Linked DNA regions of Homo sapiens. The protein of the gene in region 1 purifies or fractionates together with the protein of each later gene. This does not show direct contact. Each region holds a gene or a part of one and is shown on either strand. Other genes may lie near its edges.

What was found.
Region 2: the proteins of ACOT2 (region 1) and SPATA33 purify together in Homo sapiens (affinity purification with mass spectrometry; 2 studies listed by BioGRID and IntAct, with this or other methods). This does not show direct contact.

Annotation. Positions count from the first base shown.
Region 1 is NC_000014.9:73,562,179-73,574,563, forward strand, and holds the start of ACOT2 (acyl-coenzyme A thioesterase 2, mitochondrial), read left to right. Parts: upstream 1-7,034; 5' UTR 7,035-7,062; coding exon 7,063-7,705; intron 7,706-11,209; coding exon 11,210-11,412; intron 11,413-12,107; coding exon of another isoform or gene 12,108-12,191; exon of another isoform or gene 12,192-12,229; intron 12,230-12,385. UniProt on the Homo sapiens protein: Catalyzes the hydrolysis of acyl-CoAs into free fatty acids and coenzyme A (CoASH), regulating their respective intracellular levels. Displays higher activity toward long chain acyl CoAs (C14-C20).
Region 2 is NC_000016.10:89,653,997-89,661,366, forward strand, and holds the start of SPATA33 (spermatogenesis-associated protein 33), read left to right. Parts: upstream 1-3,839; 5' UTR 3,840-3,915; coding exon 3,916-3,952; intron 3,953-4,071; exon of another isoform or gene 4,072-4,251; coding exon 4,252-4,425; coding exon of another isoform or gene 4,426-4,455; intron 4,456-6,543; coding exon of another isoform or gene 6,544-6,554; exon of another isoform or gene 6,555-7,370. Other genes in the region: CHMP1A (charged multivesicular body protein 1a), read right to left, coding at 3,586-3,592. UniProt on the Homo sapiens protein: Plays an important role in sperm motility and male fertility. Required for sperm midpiece flexibility and for the localization of sperm calcineurin to the mitochondria. Promotes mitophagy as well as acts as an autophagy mediator in male germline cells.

The DNA.
Region 1 (12,385 bases):
TGTTTAATGTTGTGGGAAGTCAAGGACCCCGAATGGAGGGACCGGCTGGAGCCGCGGCAGAGGAACATAAATTGTGAAGATTTCATCTTAATATGGACATTTATCAGTTCCCAAATAATACTTTTATAATTTCTTATGCCTGTCTTTAATATCTTAATCCTGTTATGTTCGTAAGCTGAGGATGTACATAACCTCAGGACCACTGTGATAATTGTGTTAACTGTACAAATTGATTGTAAAACATGTGTTTGAACAATACGAAATCAGTGCACCTTGAAAAAGAACAGAATAACAGCGATTTTTATGGAACAAGGGAAGACAACCATAAGGTCTGACAGCCTGCGGAGTCGGGCCAAAAGAGCCATATTTTTCTTCTTGCAGAGAGCCTACAAACGGACGTGCAAGTAGGAGAGATATCACTAAATTATTTTCCTAGTAAGGAATATTAATATTAATACCCTGGGAAAGGAATGCATTCCTGGCGGGAGGTCTATAAACGGCCGCTCTGGGAATGTCTGTCTTGTGCCGTTGAGATAAGGACTGAGATACGCCCTGGTCTCCTGCAGAACCCTCAGGCTTACTAGGGTTGGGAAAACTCCACCCTGGTAAATTTGTGGTCAGACTGGTTCTCTGCTCTCCAACCCCGTTTTCTGTTGTTTAAGATGTTTATCAAGAAAATACATGCACCGCTGAACACAACCCTTATCAGTGGTTCTGCTTTTGCCCTTTGCCTTGTGATCTTTGTTGGACCTTTGTCAGTGGTTCTGCTTTTGCCCTTTGTCCTATTCCCTCAGAAGCATGTGATCTTTGTTAGAACCTTATTAGTGGTTCTGCTTTTGCCTTTTGAAGCATACGATCTTTGTACCCACTCCCTGTTCTTACCCCCGCTCCCCTTTTGAAACCCTTAATAAAAACTTGCTGGTCTGAGACTCAGGTGGGCATCACGGTCCTACCAATATGTGATGTCACCCCCAGCGGCCCAGGTGTAAAATTCCTCTCTTTGTACTGTCTCTATTTGTCAGCCGGCCGACTCTTATAGAAAATAGAAGGAACCTACGTTGAAATATTGGGGGCGAGTTCCCCCAATAGTTTAATGGGTAAAGACTTTCATTGTACAATGATGTAAAAATTCTGGGCCAGACGCAGTGGCTCACGCCTATAATCCCAGCACTTTGGGAGGCTGAGGCAGGCCGATCACTTGGGGTCAGGAGTTTGAGACCAGCTTGGCCAACACAGTGAAATCCCATCTCTACTAAAAATAGAAAAATTAGCTGGGTGTGGTGGTGCGTGCCTGTAGTCCCAGCTACTCGGGAGGCTGAGGTAGGAGACTCACTTGAACCCGGGAGGTGGAGGTTGCAGTGAGCTGAGATCGCGCCACTGCACTCCAGCCTGGGGGATAGAGCGAGACTCCAAAAGTTCTGGAAATGGATAATGGTGATAGTTGTACAACAATGTAATGTACTTAATATCATTGATTTGTACACTTAAAAATGGTTAAAATGGGCTTGTTCCAGCAGCTCATGCCTGTAATTCTAGCGCTTTGGGAGGCCAAGGCAGGAGGGTCACTTGAGACCAGAGTTCGAGACCAGTCTGGGCAACATAGCAAGACCCTGTCTCTAAAAATAAAAAAATAAATAAATAAATGGTTAAAATGAGGCCATGCATGCCTGTAATCTCACCGCTTTGGGAAGATGAGGCGGTAGGGTCACTTGTTTGGGAAGAGGAGGTGGGAGGATCCTTTGAACCCAGGAGTTCAAGGCTGCAATGAACTATCATGGTGCCATTGCACTCCAACCTGGGTGACAGAGTAAGACCTAGTCTCTAAAAAAATAAGAGTTAAGGCCAGACACGGTGACTCACGACTGTAGTCTCAGCACTTTGGGAGGCTGAGGCGGGCAGATTACAAGGTCAGGAGTTTGAGACCAGCCTGGCCAACATGGTGAAACCCCGTCGTACTAAATATACAAAAATCAGCTGGCCGTGGTGGCATGTGACTGTAATCCCAGCTACTCAAGAGGCTGAGGCAGGTGAATCGCTGGAACCCGGGAGCCAGAGGTTGCAGTGAGCCGAGATCAGACCACTGCACTCCAGCCTGGGTGACAGAGCAAGACTCTGTCTTGAAAAAAAAAAAAATTAAAAAAAGAAACATGGCCCAGTGTGGTGGCTCTTGCCTATAATCCCAACACTCAGGGAGGCCAAGGTGGGAGGATTGCTTAAGCCCAGGAGTTCGAGACCAGGCAACATAGGGAGACCCCGTCTGTACAAATAATTTTAAAAATTAGCCAGGTGTGGTGGTGCATGCCTGTGGTCCCAGGTGCTCAGGAGGCTGAGGTGGGAGGACTGGCTAAGCCTGGGAGGTTGAGGCTGCAGTGAGCTATGATCACACCACTGCACTCCAGCCTGGGTAACACAGTGAGACACCCCGTCTTAAAAAACAAACAAACAAATAAACAAATACTATGCATAAAACCTCAAGGCTCAAGAAACAACAGTTTGAAATAGTTAGATGTGTGTTTTTTAATTTTCATGTCTTATCTTTTCTGTTTTTTGTTTTTTTTTTTTTTTTTTTAGAGATGAGATCTTGCTCTGTTGCCCAAGCTGGTATCGAACTCCTCCTGGGCTCAAGCAATCTCCTGCCTAGGACTCCCTCCTAACAGCTGGAACTACAAGCATGAACCACTGCACCCAGCTACTGGTGTATTGTTTCAGTAGTCTTTTTAAAAAATGTTAATATCTTGGTAAAAAATATATTTATACTGTTCTCTAACCTGCTTTTTTCATCAGTGTGATGGAAAAATGCTCATCATATATTCTTCTGCTATATAACTTTAGATGTCTACACTGATTTCATTTATGACATCACAATTAAACTGGTTAAACCAAATTCATATTGCTCACTTGTTTCTAATTTTTTCTCTATTAAAATGATATGATAAGCATCCTTGTAGCCAAATATTTACACACATTCATTAAGGTTTACTTAAAAGAAATTCCTAGACGTGGAGCTGAGTCAAAGAGAAGGGATCTTTTAAGTATTTTTGCACTGATTGCCATGAAAAGGTCATACCAGTTTATACATTCATCAATATATGAGTTTCTTTTCTAAATCTTCTTCAACATCATGTGAGAGACAGTTAAAGCATAGTTGTTCAGAGCCCAGGCTTGAGAATCAGATTTCAAAGGTATGAACCCTCTCCCTTTTTCTTTTCCTTTTTTTTTTTTTTTTCTGAGGAGTCTTGCTCAGTCGCCCAGGCTGGAGTGCAGTGGCCCAATCTCGGCTCACTGCAAGTGTGTCCAGAATTGGTGGATTCTTGGTCTCACTGACTTCAAGAATGAAGCCGTGGACCCTCACGGGAGCATTACAGCTCTTAAAGGTGGCATGTCCAGAGTTCGTTCCTTCTGATGTTCGGATGTGTTCGGAGTTTCTTCCTTCTGGTGGGTTCATGGTCTCGCTGGCTTAGGACTGAAGCTGCGGACCTTCGTGGTGAGTGTTACAGCTCTTAAGGCGGCGTGTCTGGAGTTGTTCGTTTTTCCCGGTGAGTTCATGGTCTCGCTGGCTTCAGGAGTGAAGCTACAGACCTTGGTGGTGAGTGTTAGAGCTCATAAAGGCAGTGTGGACGCAAAGAGTGAGCAGCAGTAAGATTTATTGCAAAGAACGAAAGAACAAAGTTTCCACAGTGTGGAAGGGGGACCCCAGCGGGTTGCCACTGCTGGCTAGGGCAGCCTGCTTTTATTCTCTTATCTGGCCCCACTCACATCCTGCTGATTGGTAGAGCCCAGGGGTCTGTTTTGACAGGGCACTGATTGGTGCGTTTACAATTCCTCAGCTAGACACAAAAGTTCTCCACGTCCCCACCAGAATAGTTAGATACAGAGTGTTGACACAAAGGTTCTCCAAGTCCCCACCAGAGTAGCTAGATACAGAGTGTTGATTGGTGCATTCACAAACCCTGAGCTAGACACAGGGTGCTGATTGGTGTGTTTACAAACCTTGAGCTAGATACAGAGTGCCGATTGGTGTATTTACAATCCCCTAGCTAGACATAAAGGTTCTCCAAGTTCCCACTAGACTCAGGAGCCCAGCTGGCTTCACCCAGTGGATCGTGCACTGGGGCTGCAGGTGGAGCTGCCTGCCAGTCCCGCACCGTGAGCCCACACTCCTCAGCCCTTGGGTGGTCAATGGGACTGGGCTCCGTGGAGCAGGGGGCGGCGCTCGTCAGGGAAGCTCAGGCTGCACAGGAGCCCACGGAGGCGGGGGGAGGCTCAGGCATGGAGGGCTGCAGGTCCTAAGCCCTTTCCCGTGGGAAGGCAGCTAAGGCCCAGCGAGAAATTGAGCACAGCGCCAGTGGGCCGGCACTGCTGGGGGACCCAGCACACCCTCCGCAGCCGCTGGCCCAGGTGCTAAGCCCCTCATTGCCCGGGGCTGGCAGGGCCAGCTGGCGGCTCCGAGTGTGGGGCCCACCAAGCCCATGCCCACCTGGAACTCCAGCTGGCCCGCAAGTGCGGAACGCAGCCTCAGTTCCCACTTGCGCCTCTCCCTCCACACCTCCCTGCAAGCTGAGGGAGACGGCTCCGGCCTTGGCCAGCCCAGAAAGGGGCTCCCACAGTGCAGCGGTGGGCTGAAGGGCTTCTCAAGTGCCGCCAAAGTGGGAGCCCAGGCAGAGGAAGTGCTGTGAGGGCTGCCAGCACGCTGTCACCTCTCACAAGCTCCACCTCTGGGGTTCACGCCATTCTCCTGCCTCAGCCTCTGGAGCAGCTGGGACTACAGGTGCCTGCCACCATGCCCAGTTAATTTCTTGTATTTTTTTTTAGTAGAGATGGGGTTTCACTGTGTTAGCCAGGATGGTGTCGATCTCCTGACCTCATGATCCACCCGCCTCAGCCTCCCAAAGTTCTGGGATTACAGGTGTGAGCCACCGCGCCCATCCCCTTTTTCTTTTTAGAGACAGGGTCTTGCTATGTTGTCCAGGTTGGTGCGAAACTCCTGGCCTTAAGCAACCCTGCCACCTCAGCCTCCAAGTAAACTGGGATTACAGGCGTGAGCCATCTTGCCCAACTTCCACTTTCTAGCTGTGTGATCTTCAGAAAATCAGTTAAATTCTCTGGGCCTTAATTTACTGATAGGGTTCTTGTAAGTATTAACCATTAGCTACTATTGAGAGGTGAAGACCGCTGGGCTTCTGGGTTGGGTGGGGACTTGGAGAACTTTTTTGTCTAGCTAAAGGATTGTAAATGCACCAATCAGCACTCTGTGTCTAGCTAAAGGTTTGTAAACGCACCAATCAGCACTGGGTAAAAACGAACCAATCAGCACTTTGTAAAACGAACCAATCAGCACTCTGTAAAATGGAAAATCAGCGCTCTGTAAAATGGACCAATCAGCAGGACATGAGCAGGGCCAAATAAGGGAATAAAAGCTGGTCACCCCAGCTAGTAGTGGTAACCTGCGTGAGTTCCGCTCCAGGCTGATGGAAGCTTTGTTCTTTTGTACTTCACAATAAACCTTGCTACTGCTCCTTCTTTGGGTCCATACTGCATTTCAGAGCTGTAACACCGTGAAGGTATACAGCTTCACTCCTGAAGCCAAGACCATGAACCCACTGAGAGGAACAAGAAAAACAACTCTGGACCTGCTGCCTTTATGAGCTGTAACACTCACCTTGAAGGTCTGTGGCTTTACTCTTGAAGTCGGTGAGAAGCGAGACCATGAACCCACCAGAAGGAACACATTCCGGACGCATCTGAACATCAGAGGAAACAAACTCCAGACACACTACTTTTCAGAACTGTATTAAGAACTGTAACAGTCACTGCGAGGGTCTGCGGCTTCATTCTTGATGTCAGCGAGACCAAGAATCCACCAGAAGGAACCAATTCCAGACACAGAATTATTTGCCTTCTTACTTCCTGAGAGTTCTAGGCACAGAACATACTTGAGGTGTTATACAAAGGTAATTAGAACTGACAGGGAATTGTATGATTAATGACGTGGGACATGAGAGATTTGGAACGAGATAAAAAGGCTTACCTTGAGGACAGCCTTATTAGGAGCAGAGGCAAACACAGGTTTTGTGGGTTTGAAGCCTACACATTTATAGCTTTCTCTAATTACACAGGTAGGAAATTATAAAATCAGGTACAAGGGCTTGGCAGGGGCCTAAAGCTTAAGTGATGAAAAAAAAAAACACCACACCTCTGGTGAAACCAATAGCTTACGAAAAAGTAGAAAAAAGCGCGATGCATGGGGAGCTCCGGTAGTCCTTTGAGGTATTTGAGAGGCTGAGTCAGGAAGATGGCTTGAGCACCAGGAGTTGGAGGTTTGTAAGTGCAGTGATGGTAAACTGCCGCTGTACTCCAGTCTGGCAATGTAGTGAGACCCTGTCTCTCAAAAAAAAAAAGTAACCCTTGCCTGACTGGGACAATAATTGAGAAACCAGTAAAACAAAATAATAACTATTAGCCGGGCGCGGTGGCTCATGCCTGTAAATCCTAGCATTTTGGGAGGCTGAGGCGGGCGGATTACAAAGTCAGGAGTTTGAGAAATTACTACCTATTACCCCATTTGGCTATTTTTACACTTGTAAGGAATGAAGCTCAGAGGTCACACAGCTAGTAAGAAGCCAGCACCCTTCGATGTGGGATTGATGTGGAGGATAGGCATATACAGAGAACACAAAAGCAAAACACCATGGTGCAGATTTTGAAAGAAAAGCCCTAAGATTAGTAATGAGTGTGAATTATTCAACAAAGTGATCAAAACTAACTCCAGCTCTGCATTCCTCTTCGCCATCAGGAGTTTGGAGCCTGGAGACTGCTAGCTGCCTGGTTCTTTAAGAACCAGCCCTGGTCCAGCCCATTCCGCAGGCCAGCAAGCTTCTGAAAAGCAAACCTAGGAAGTAGCTTTCCAACATAAAGTGGAGGTTTCAACACAGGAGACTTTAAGCAAGTTCCAGTGTGTCTATATTTGGTCTGGCTGATCGGCTGGACTCTGGCCTTCCCCGCTCACGTTAGCAGACAGCTCTGCCCTAGTGGGCGCTTAGCCTGCGACGGCAGCCCGAGAGGATGTCTAACAAGCTTCTTTCTCCCCACCCCCATTCAGTTGTTCTCAGGTCTGAATTCAAAATGGCCTCATCTCCTGCTGTCCTTCGAGCGTCCCGGCTGTACCAATGGAGCCTGAAGAGTTCGGCGCAGTTCCTGGGGTCTCCACAGCTGAGGCAGGTTGGTCAGATCATTAGGGTTCCTGCTCGGATGGCGGCGACGCTGATCCTGGAGCCTGCGGGCCGCTGCTGCTGGGACGAACCGGTGCGAATCGCCGTGCGCGGCCTAGCCCCGGAGCAGCCGGTCACGCTGCGCGCGTCCCTGCGCGACGAGAAGGGCGCGCTTTTCCAGGCCCACGCGCGCTACCGCGCCGACACTCTTGGCGAGCTGGACCTGGAGCGCGCGCCCGCGCTGGGCGGCAGCTTCGCGGGGCTTGAGCCCATGGGGCTGCTCTGGGCCTTGGAGCCCGAGAAACCTTTGGTGCGGCTGGTGAAGCGCGACGTGCGAACGCCCTTGGCCGTGGAGCTGGAGGTGCTGGATGGCCACGACCCCGACCCCGGGCGGCTGCTGTGCCAGACGCGGCACGAGCGCTACTTCCTCCCGCCCGGGGTGCGGCGCGAGCCGGTGCGCGTGGGCCGGGTGCGAGGCACGCTCTTCCTGCCGCCAGGTGACTCACCTCCGCTAATTGTTCCGTGTTCGTTCGCCTTTCACTTTGTGTGTCTCCCCCGCCCCACGCTTTTCGCTTATGTGTATGCCCCCCCGCCGCGCCCCCGGGCTATATTGCCCAGGCAGGTTTCGAATTCCTGGTCTCCAGCTATCTTCCCGCCTCTGCCTCCCTAAGAGCTGGGATTACAGGGTGAGCCACCGCGCCCGGCACTTTGAGGGGAGTTACACTTTTTTTTTTTTTCCGTCCCTGCCCTTTTCACACGAAGAAGGGATGTAGCTTCCAACCTTCCGGAGGTTAGTGTAAAGAAACAGGAATGGAATGGAAAGCTGATTGGGGAAGTGTCCCTGCCGCTCCAAAACTGAGAGGTCCCTCAAACCTAGTGCTCAGTTAAAAGACATTGTAAGGGCCAGGCGCAGTGGCTCACGCTTGTAATCCCAGCACTTTGGGAAGTCTCGGCGGGCAGATCACGAGATCAAAAGATTGAGGCCATCCTGACTAACACGGTGAAACCCCGTCTCTACTAAAAATACAAAACAGTAGCTGGGCGTAGTAGCGGGCGCCTGTAGTCCCAGCTACTCGGGAGGCTGAGGCAGGAGAATGGTGTGAACCCGGGAGGCAGAGTTTGTAGTGAGCTGAGATCGCGCCACTGCACTCCAGCCTGGGCGACAGAGCGAGACTCCGTCTCAAAAAAAAGACATTGTAAGGAAAGGAAAAAGACACTTATATTAAAAACAAAACAGGCCGGGCGCGGTGGCTAACGCCTGTAATCCTAGCGCTTTGGGAGGCCGAGGCCGGCGGATCACCTGAGGTCAGGAGTTCGAGACCAGCCTGGCCAACATGGTGAAACCCCATCTCTACTAAAAATAGAAAAATTAGCCAGGCGTGGTGGTGCATGCCTGTAGTCCCAACTACTTAGGAGGTTGAGGCAGGAGAATCGCTGGAACCCGGGAGGCAGAGGTTGCAGTGAGCTGAGATCATGCCATTGCACTCCAGCCTGGGGGACAAGAGTGACTCTATCTTAAAAAAAAAAAAAAAAAATTCAGGTAGTTTCAATTTTTTAATGTTCTTATTTATGTATTGACTAGGAAGCCACTTTTTTTTTTTTTTAAATAAGAATTCCGACTGGTTTTCTCACTGTATTTCCATGGCAGCTAGGAGGTGCCAGGTGGCTGGGCCTGTGACAGTGCAGAGGTTTTGGTGCCTGCCCGCCCACCATTGCTCCAGCTGCAGCTGCTGCCCCCTGCAGGGCCTGTTCGTTCCTGCTGCCTAGCTCCCCGCTGGCTGGCTATGATCTCCCTGTTACCATTCCAGGAGAGCAGCCGCGTCCCTATGCATGGCAGGACCAGGTACTATTGTGGCCTCTCCTCTTGGCCTCGAATGGTATCTTTGTCATCAGTGAGCAAGTCCCCAAAGACCACGGTCTTGTCCATTGTCAGGATAATTCACTCCACAAGCTGGGGCTCCAGGTGCTGCCCTACCCAGCGGTGCTTCTCACCCACACAGTGGTCATACTTTGGCAGGGGCTGGTGCAGTGTGAAGACCTCGGTGTTTTGCATGTGCTTCATCTCTTGCAAGGTCCTCCGGGGTTGGGCTTCAAGACTAGGGAAAAGCCTGGGCTTCACACCCGTGGGCCACTTTATCCACCAGGTCCGGCAGCAGGGTGAGGTACTGCTTCCAGACCAGGAAGCTGCGGTGCTGCTGCAGTGTCACATGCAGCTCCCTGAGAAGGGGCGGCTGAAGCCCCGCAGGAGGCCGTCTGGAAGCTGCCAGCACGCGGTCCCTGTCCATCAGCACACGCGTGGGCTGTGCTCATCGCTGCCGGGGCACTGGGGTTTCTCGGGATCCTAGGGGTATGGGGCCCAGAAATGTTCTTTAAAAGTTTCTCATTTTTGCAACTTTTCTTTGAATTCGCACAGTATGTTAAGATTTATGTAAATTAGCATTTACAATAGGAAAACCTCTTCCTGTCAAATGGAAATTTGAGGTTACTGGATACTTTTATATTACATAAAGAGCAATCAGCCAGTGTAAAAATGAAATGATGCTTATCCTTATTAATAATCAAAGAAATGCAAAATAAAACAACAGAGTACATTTCACACCCTCAGAAGTGGCCCACTTTTAGAAGCTAGCATTATCAATTGCTGACCAGTATGTGGAGGAAATGAAACTCACTGCTAGAAGGAGCAACATATTCATCTGCTCTGGGCAACAATTTGTCTTAACTTACAAAGTTAAATATGTTATTCTACTTGTACATGTGCACCAGGAGGCATATTCCTTATAAGAGGCCAGATGAGCAGTCTGGATTAATTTAAAAAAAGAGCAAAGTCAACTGGAAACAGTCCAAATGTCCATCAACAATAGAACAGATTAATAAATTGAGGTATATTTCCAGCAGTCAAAGTGATTGAACTACAGCTACAAGAATCAACATCTATCAAGATATACAAAAGAAAAGAAAAAAAAAGAATCAACATGGATGAATCTCCAAACCACTGTTGAGTGAAACAGTCAAACCCTAGGAGAACACATTCAGTATCATTCCATTTAGATACAATTCAAAAACTAGGCAAAATAAAATATTAAGGTACATAATCTAAGTGGTAATACTATGAAGAAAACCAAGAGTGATACACAGAAAGTCCAGGATACTGGAAAGAGAGGAAAGGGCACAGGGGTCTGTGGGACGTTGATGGTTTGCGGGTATCAGCACTGAACTATGTCTTAAAAGTGTTGCCTGTAAGGTGTTTGCATTTTTTTTTTTTTTTTTTTTTTTTTTGAGACAGTGTCTCGCTCTTTCGCCCAGGCTGGAGTAGTGGCACAATCTTGGCTCACTGCAACCTCCACCTCCCGGGTTCAAGCGATTCTCCTCCCTCAGCCTCCCGAGTAGCTGGGATTACAGGTGGCCGCCACCACACCCAGCTAATTTTTGTATTTTTAGTACAGATGGGGTTTCACCATGTTGGCCAGGCTGGTCTCGAACTCCTGACCTCAGGTGATCCACCCGTCTCAGCCTCCCAAAGTGCTGGGGTTACAGGCGTGAGCCACCGGACCCAGCCTGCATTATTACTATTTAATTTTGTGTGAAACACAAAACCTTTAATGTAAATGATAAAAATATCAGTAAGTGGAGTCATTCAGAATGAGTAGCCTTTTGAGTCTGTCTCCGTTGAGTAAGTGCATTCTGTTGAGTGCACTGGAGAGGAATTTGTGCTCTTCTATGTAGCAGTCTTTCTTTTTGTTTCTTGGTGGTGCACCATTAAATGGATTCATTCACCAGTTAAAGGACATTTGGGTTGTTTCCAGTCTTTGGCTACAACGAGTAAAGTCACTATAAACACTTGCCAGAGGTTTCTGGACGAACAGGTTTTCATTTCTCGTGGGTAGATACCTAGGAGTGGGATTGCTGGGTCACATGTGTGGTAAGTATATGTTTAACTTAAACCATCCAACTGTTTCAGGAATAGCTTAGTTTTGCATTTTGTTTTGTTTCTTCCCAAGAACCTGGGCCCTTTCCTGGGATTGTGGACATGTTCGGAACTGGAGGTGGCCTGCTGGAGTATCGGGCTAGTCTGCTGGCTGGGAAGGGTTTTGCTGTGATGGCTCTGGCTTATTATAACTATGAAGACCTCCCCAAGACCATGGAGACGCTCCATCTGGAGTACTTTGAAGAAGCCATGAACTACTTGCTCAGTCATCCCGAGGTTAGTTCTTCTTTCAGATTTATGGGCTATGATGTATCAGGTCTCTTCTTAAATGGTCTGGGTTTTCACAGAAGTTAGCTCATTCATGACAGCCATTCCCTACCCCAACACACACTACCTTTTTTAGTCACTTCTTATAGACAGTTTCTTTTTTTGAGATGGAGTCTCACTCTGTTGCCAGGCTGGAGTCCAGTGGTGCGATCTTGGCTCACTGCAACCTCCACCTCCCAAGTTCAAGTGATTCTTGTGCCCCACCCTCCCGAGTAGTTGGGATTACAGGCACCTGCCACCATGCTTGGCTAATTTTTGTATTTTTAGTGGAGGCGGGGTTTCACAATATTGGTCAGGCTGGTCTTGAACTCCTGACCTCAAATGATCCACCTGCTTTGACCTACCCAAGTGCTGGATTACAGGCATGAGCCACTATGCCCAGCCTAATATTTGTATTTTTTTTTTTTTAAGTAGAGATGGGGTTTCGCCATGTTGGCCAGGCTGGTCTCAAACTCCTGACCTCAAGTGATCTGCCCACCTTGGCCTCCCAGAGTGCTGGAATTACAGGCATGAGCCACCACACCTGGCCTCTTATAGACAGTTTCTATTCAATTCTATATTACTATATTTCCTGCTAGTAAAGAGATTCGTAGTTGTTATTATGCAATTTTAAATTCCAGTATTTTTTTTTTTTTTTTTTTGAGATGGAGTCTTGCTGTGTCACCCAGGCTGGAGTGCAATGGCATGATCTCGGCTCACTGCAAACTCCACCTCCCAGGTTCAATTGATTCTTCTGCCTCAGCCTCCCACGTAGCTGTGACTACAGGCACGTGCCACTACTGCCCGGCTAATTCTTGTATTTTTAGTAGAGATGTTTCACCATGTTGGCCAGACTGATCTCAAACTCCTGACCTCAAATGATCCACCCGCCTCAGCCTCCCAAACTGTTGGGATTACAGGCGTCAGCCACCACTCCCGGCCA
Region 2 (7,370 bases), on another chromosome or scaffold:
TAGGTTCCTTCTAGACACCAGGAGCTAGAACACACACACAGACCACACCTGCCTGGGGCCTTCGGGGAGCCCCCCCCAACAGGGGAGGCACGAGACAGATTCGTGTGCCAGCCCTGGCTCCTTGCTAGCCACAGGGCCCAGCAAATGCAGACCCTCCCTCCCTGTTTCCTTGTTGGGAACATGAGGGTGGTACCAGCCAATCTCAAAGGGTTAGTGTGAGGACAGAAGAGGTCATGGACGCAGCATCTTTTGGCCATGGTTAGAATCCAAAAGATGGTGGTTTATAATTAATGCAACTTTGCAAATGTCCCTTGGGATTCTTTCCCAATTTAAAAGTTCACCTGTAATCCCAGCACTCTGGGGGTGCCGAGGCCAGTGGATCACTTAAAGCCAGGGTTTGAGGCCAGCCTGGGCCAATTTAAAAGTTCAGTACTTGACAGTTTACTTTTTACAGACTCTTTCTCCTCAAAGGTAAATGGATAAAAATAGCAAGGTGGTAACTCTTAGACATCAAAGAGCTGATTTCCAGCGGTACAGTCGCTCACGCCTGTAATCACAGCACTCTGGGAGGCTGAGGCGGGCAGATCACTTGAGGTCAGGAGTTCCAGACCAGCCTAGGGAATATAGTCAGACCTCATCTCTATTAGAAAAATATATATTTTTTTGCCGGGTGCGGTGGCTCACGCCTGTAATCCCAGCACTTTGGGAGGCCGAGGCCGGCGGAACATGAGGTCAGGAGATCGAGACCATCCTGGCTAACACGGTAAAAGCCCGTCTCTACCAAAAAATACAAAAAATTAGCCAGGCGTGGTGGCGGGCGCCTGTAGTCCCAGCTACTCAGGAGGCTGAGGCAGGAGAATGGCGTGAACCCGGGAGGCAGAGCTTGCAGTGAGCCGAGATTGCGCCACTGCACTCCAGCCTGGGCAACAGTGCAAGACTCCGTCTCAAAAAAAAAAAGAAAAAATATTTTTTTTAAAAAGTAGGATTGATCTCAATTCATTCAACTGCTAAATTTGGAGAGCGACCCTGACCCCAGATTCCTGAAAGGGCTTTACCACACTAGCCACAACGAGGAAATGGAGCCTGTAAAAGAATGAGGTTACTGAGTGTTCACAAATGCACACCAAGGCTCCAAGATGAGATCTCCCGGGGTTCCAGAAAGCTCTGGGCATCGTTCAATCTATCGCCTGTCAGTGCAGGCGTGGTCAAGGCCAAGTTCAACCTGTCATCTATCAGTTCAGGTGTGGTCACGGCCAAGGTTATCTGTGACTGGAAAACAGCCAGCCTGACCCAGATGGCACAGTGCAGGCCAGGCGGGCCGTCCCACCCAACTCACTGTGGGATGCTGGCCAAACCGCCCTCCTCATCTCAGCTTTCCCTCACCTCAGCTTTCCCTCACCTCAGCTTTCCCTCACCTCAGCTTTCCCTCACCTCAGCTCTCCTCACCTCAGCTTTCCTCACCTCAGCTTTCCCTCACCTCAGCTTTCCTCACCTCAGCTTTCTCTTCCAGCCGTGTGTGGCAGCACAAAAACCCAGCTAAGGCAAAATCTGACTCTGAGGAAATCTGACATGGGCTTGAGAGAAGTCCCCTCAAAAGAGTTGAGTGAGCTGTGGAGTGAAAAGCCACAATTTTTCTTTTTTTTTTTTGAGACGGAGTCTCACTCTATCACCCAGGCTAGAGTGCAACGGCACCATCTTGGCTCACTGCAACCTCTGCCTCCCAGGTTTAAGCGATTCTCCTGTCTCAGCCTCCCAAGTAGTTAGAATTACACGTGCACGCCACCAGGCCCAGCTAATTTTTGTATTTTTAGAAGAGACGGGGTTTCACCATGTTGGCCAGGCTGGTCTCAAACTCCTGACCTCAGGTGATCAACCAACCTCGGCCTCCCAAAGTGTTGGGGTTACAGGCGTGAGCCACCACATCCGGCCTCCCAAAGTGCTGGAATTACAGCCGTGAGCCACCGCGCCCGGCCTCCCAGAGTGCTGGGGTTACAGGCCTGAGCCACCACACCCGGCCTGGCCAGCATATTTTTTGTGGCGGGAGGTAGATGTTATCTTTCATCTTCTCTCAGGGCAGAAAATCTCTACACATTTCCTTCATGATGATGACACGGTGGTACTATAGCTTTTCACACTTCTAACTAAAAGAATTTTTTTTGAGACGGAGTCTCGCTCTGTCGCCCAGGCTGGAGTGAAGTGGCGCGATCTCGGCTCACTGCAAGCTCCGCCTCCCGGGTTCACGCCATTCTCCTGCCTCAGCCTCCCGAGTAGCTGGGACTACAGGCACCCGCCACCACGCCTGGCTAATATTTTTGTATTTCTAGTAGAGATGGGGTTTCACTGTGTTAGCCAGGATGGTCTCGATCTCCTGACCTTGCGATCCGCCGGCCTCGGCCTCCCAAAGTGCTGGGATTACAGGCGTGAGCCACCGCGCCCAGCCCTTCAAAAAGTATTTTTAAAAGCCTGCCCATCACACCAGCCCAACGATGTTTCAGCAAACATAGGACTTCATTTTGCCAGATTCTTCCTGTTCTTTGGTATCCCTGAGCACACAGCCGGCTAGCCCCAGATGTAGAAGGTAAGAATTAGGGCGACCCATTGAGCACAGAAACGCTTGTGCTGGCTCCTGCTCAAACCTCTGCTTCCCCACATGGAGAATGGACGCAAAGAGCTGCTGTGACCAGGGCCTGGCACTCAGGGAGCGCTTTCTGTCTGAGTCCTTCTGATTTGCAGTGATGCTGTTTGGGGCAGGGGGTGCAACTGTCACTTTTTCTGGTGCCCTCTGACCCGACATTCCAAGTCCCGAAAGGCCGAACAGGCATCGCACAGTCCCCCCTACCGAGCTGGCGGGAAAGGGCGCCTGACGCTGAGGAGTGCCAGGGGCGGGGGAAAGGGTCCTGGGTCGGTGGTCGGGGGTCCAGGCCCTGGGCAAGGGGTCCTGGGTCGGGAGTCTAGGTCCCGGGTCCATGGTTGGGGGTCAGAGGTCGAGGCCCCGGGGAAGGCATACCGGGTTGAGATTTGGGGATGGAGGCCCCGGGGAAGGGGTCCCGAATCGGGGGTCGGGGATCGAGGCCTGGGGGGAGGGGTCCCGGGTCGAGGGTCGAGGCCCGGGGTAAAGGATCTCGGGTTGGGGGTCGGGGGCCTGGGAAGGGTCCCGGTCGGTGGTCGGGGGTCGAGGCCCGGGAGAAGGGGTCCCGGGTCGGTGGTAGAGGCCCTGGGGAAGGGGTTCCGGGTCGGGGATCGAGGGTCGAGGCCCGGGAAAAGGGGTCCCGGGTTGGTGGTCTAGGCCCTGGGGAAGGGGTTCCGGGTCGGGTATCGGGGGACGAGGCTCGGGAAAAGGGGTCCCAGGTCGGTGGTCGAGGCCCTGGGGATGGGGTCCGGGTCGGGGATCGGGGGACGACGACCGGGAAAAGGGGTCCCAGGTCGGTGGTCGAGGCCCTGGGGATGGGGTCCCGGGGGATCGACGGTCGAGGCCCGAGCTCTCCTGAGTCCTGCCCGCGGCCCCAGGTGGGCGGAGCCCACGCCAGTGGGAGAAGCGGCCCCGCCCCGCGCGCGAGTCCCCGGAGGACGGCCGCGACCTCTTACCGTCCATGGCCACAATGACAGGAGCAGCACTCGGAGAGGGAGAAGGGACGCCAACTCCGGGCGGTGTCAGGTCCCGGCGGCGATCGAACCGACCAAGCTGCACCCGGCGGGGACTTCCGGGGTCGCCGCCCCACTTCCGGTCGCACGGGATGCTCTCGCGAGAGGATGGTGGCCGGTCCCGCCAGAGGGGCGGGGCGCGGCTGCGCGGCGCGCGGTCGCCATGGTGACGCACGCCGCTGGCGCGAGGACCTTTTGTGAGTCGCTCCCGGCTCCGCGGCCGCGGAGGTGTGGGGACCCGGGCTTGCGTCGGAGGGGGCGGTGGGCTCACCCATGGGCCTTTCCAAAAGCAAAGAGAAACCCAGGAAAGGTAAAGGAGGCGCAGGCGCTGGGCTCCCCGCGTCTCCGCCCCTGGGCGCGGGCCCAGGGCGGGGCTGGGCTGGGCGGGGCGGTGTGAGCGCAGGCGCCAGGCTCGGCCCGGTGCGAACCGTTCCTGCCGCCGAGTCCGCCACGGACGGCGCGTTTCCCGCCTGAGGCGGTTACGGAAACGCGGAGACTCGAGACTTGAAGCCAGCTTATTCTGGACCCACGCAGGCGACTGAAGACGATGGGACCCACTGCCCTGCATTCGGTAAGTCCCGGGTCTAACGGATGATCCATATATTTCAGGTGAGGAGCAAAAGAAGGGATCCACCTATTCAGTTCCAAAATCTAAGGAGAAGTTGATGGAGAAGCATTCCCAGGAAGCCAGGCAGGCAGACAGGGAGTCGGAGAAGCCTGTGGACAGCCTCCACCCGGGGGCCGGGACAGCCAAGCACCCGCCGCCGGCAGCTTCGCTGGAAGGTAGGAGACGGCGGGAGGGAGCGAAGCGAGGTCAGTGGCTTGGAGGATCTGGGGCTGGGGTGAGGAGCCTACTGTAAGACCCTACCGGATGGACACTAGTAGCAGGCACGCGCCGTAAAGATGAAACTGGTTTGTTTTGGGAACTTTATGTAGGAGGTAAATATCCAGAAATCTTAGTTGAAAACATAAGTTTAATGAAAATGTAGGTCAGTTCCCGAGTGATAAGTGCGTACCAGGTGGTCGAGGGGCTGGGGCAGTGTGCGTGTGTCTCACCTGAGGTTCTCCTCGAGGGCTGGGTATCTTGGTGCCACTGAGAATCCCTGAGCCTCCGCACACTGGAACAGAGCATTGGGAGGCCGTCCCAGGCTGGACTGTAGCTCTCCGAGGGCTGTGGGGATAAGTACATTGCGGAGGGTGACCGAGGAGTAGAACCTGGGTGCGACAAAGGTGTCTTTTATAACAGCCTAGTGTGGCCAGACCTTTGGGTGTGTGTGGGGAAGATGAGGCCCCAAAAGTAGGAAGAAGCTAGAATACAAAGTTTTCCATCAGTTTTACCACGTGGAGCTGGAAGCGTTAAATATTTTAAACAACGGAGGTGCTGCCTGGGGCGGTAGTTCACACCTGTCCTCCCAGTTATTTGGCCGAGGCAGGAGGATCTTTTGAGCCCAGGAGTTCAAGACCAGCTTGGGCAACATAGTGAGACCCTGTCTCTACAAAAAATAAATATTTAAAAATAAAAAACAAGGGCGGCATGATGAGGTCTGTGCCTACCAACAGGGGAAGCCAGTTCGCAGGGGAGGTGGCCCGGTCAGAGACCCATTGCTGTGGCCCAGTGGGAGCCAGCAAGGCCTTGCAGTAGGAATTGCAGAAGGGTCAGGCAGGGAGAACCCGCAGAGCCTGCCGTCCGAGGAGATTGGGGGCCTGTGCCAGGAGGAGGTGTTTTAAGTTTCATCACAAGAATGAACCACTCGGCTGGGCGCAGTGGCTCACGCCTGTAATCCCAGCACTTTGGGAGGCCGAGGCGTGTGGATCACTTAAGGTCAGGAGTTCAAGACCAGCCTGGCCAACGTGGTGAAACCCTGTCTCTACTAAAAATACAAAAATTAGCTGGGCGTGGTGGCATGTGCCTGTAATCCCAGCTACTCAGGAGGCTGAGGCAGGAGAATTGCTCGAACCTTGAACCGGGACCCGGGAGGCAGAAGTAGTGGTGAGCGAGATCGCACCACTGCACTCCAGCCTGGGCTACAGAGTGAGACTCTGTCTCAGAAAAAAAAAAAAATAATAAGGAGAGAACCACTCGGGTCAGACAAGAAAGAATGTCAGGGGGATGACTGGCCTGCTAGGCAGAGGAGCTGGGCCTGGACTGCTTCACACTGACACGCTTGTAGGATCAAGGGCTGAAAGTAGGAGGCTCTGGGCCTTGGACTTGGAAGAAAGACTTGGATTTGAATTCCCAACTTTGGAACCTCCCACTGGAGGGTGGAACCCCTCACAGGAGGGCGCAACCCCCCACCGGAGGATGGAACCCTGCAGGAATAGCATCACCCTTGGGTGGCAGTTTGGAAAATGCTACCTGTCTGTCACGGTGCTTTTAGCTGAAAGTTACAGAAAAGCTCACTAAACGCAGCTTTAACACAGGGATTTAATGTCTCACGAATGAAGGGTCAGAGGTGGAGCTTCCAGGTTGGCTTGTTAGCACAACAGTGACATCAAAGACTTTGCGTGTCTCTTCTTGACCACTCTCAGTGTCCACAGCCCCCGATGAGTGTACAGCCCCCCACACGCAGGCAGGACTGCATCTACTGCAAAGGCATTGCTCCTTGCTTCATATTAGCAAGGAAACCTTTCCCAGGAAGGCTTCGCCTGCCCAGCCTCTGCAGGACTCATTCAATGGTGCAAATTCACCAGGGGCTGGAGGGAGCTGTGAAGCATGGGAGTGGGCAGGACCTCTGCCAGTAACGGAAGTGGGGGAAGGAGGACCGCCTGTTGGAAGGGCCCCAGCAGTGTCTGTCACACCAGAGGGTGGGGGAGGAAGGTGGACATGAAGGGAAAACAGCAGAGCAAGAGTGAGAACAGAGTTTCAGCAGATAAAATGAAGTGTGCACGCTCTCCATGCAGTGACGGGCTGAGCGACAGTGAGGAGCAGGCTGCTGACTCCCTTGCCACACCGTGAAGGAGTCCCAAAGGTGGGACACTGAGTGAGACAAGCCAGAGGAAAGACCACTCATGTTGCAGTTCCCTTTCCATGGAATGTCCAGAAAAGGCACATTTACAGAGAGAAGCAGATGAGTGGTTGCTGGGCAGAAATGGGAGCCGGCCACAGCTGAGCACAAGAGGACTTTGGAGGGTGATGGAAATGGTTTTCGACCTGAATCTGAACATGGGAAGCACTGCAGTTTAGTAGTCCTGGTCCCTAAGCCCTTCCAGCCCAGGAGCCAGACCTGTGAGCAAACAAGCCTTTAGTGATTCCAGGCTCTGGCTGGAACCTTGAGTCTTCTCAGCTTGGGGCATGCACCTCAGGGGGAGCCAGCATCAGTGTCCAGCCCCAAGAGCTTCCCTGTACGTCTCAGTGAGTCTTCACATGCCTCCAACTGCCTGGACAACCACACGTGATACCTGTCCTGCCAAACGTGTCCTGAACCCATAAAATCCAGAGAAAAGAAAATCGTTTTAAACTGCTGAGGTTTGGGGTAAGTTACTATGAAGCAGTAGTGAGAAGAACAGAAGGGCCATGATGGGGAGAAAGTTTGGCCATAAGTTAATCACTGTGGCAGCTGTTAGGATATTGATGTGGCTTGGCTGTGTCCTCACCCAAATCTCATTTTGAATTCCCACATGTGGGAGGAACTGGGTGGGAGGTGATTGAATTATGGGGGCAGGTCTTTCCTGTGCTGTTTTCGTGATAGTGAATGAGTGTCACGAGATCCGATGGTTTTAAAAACGGG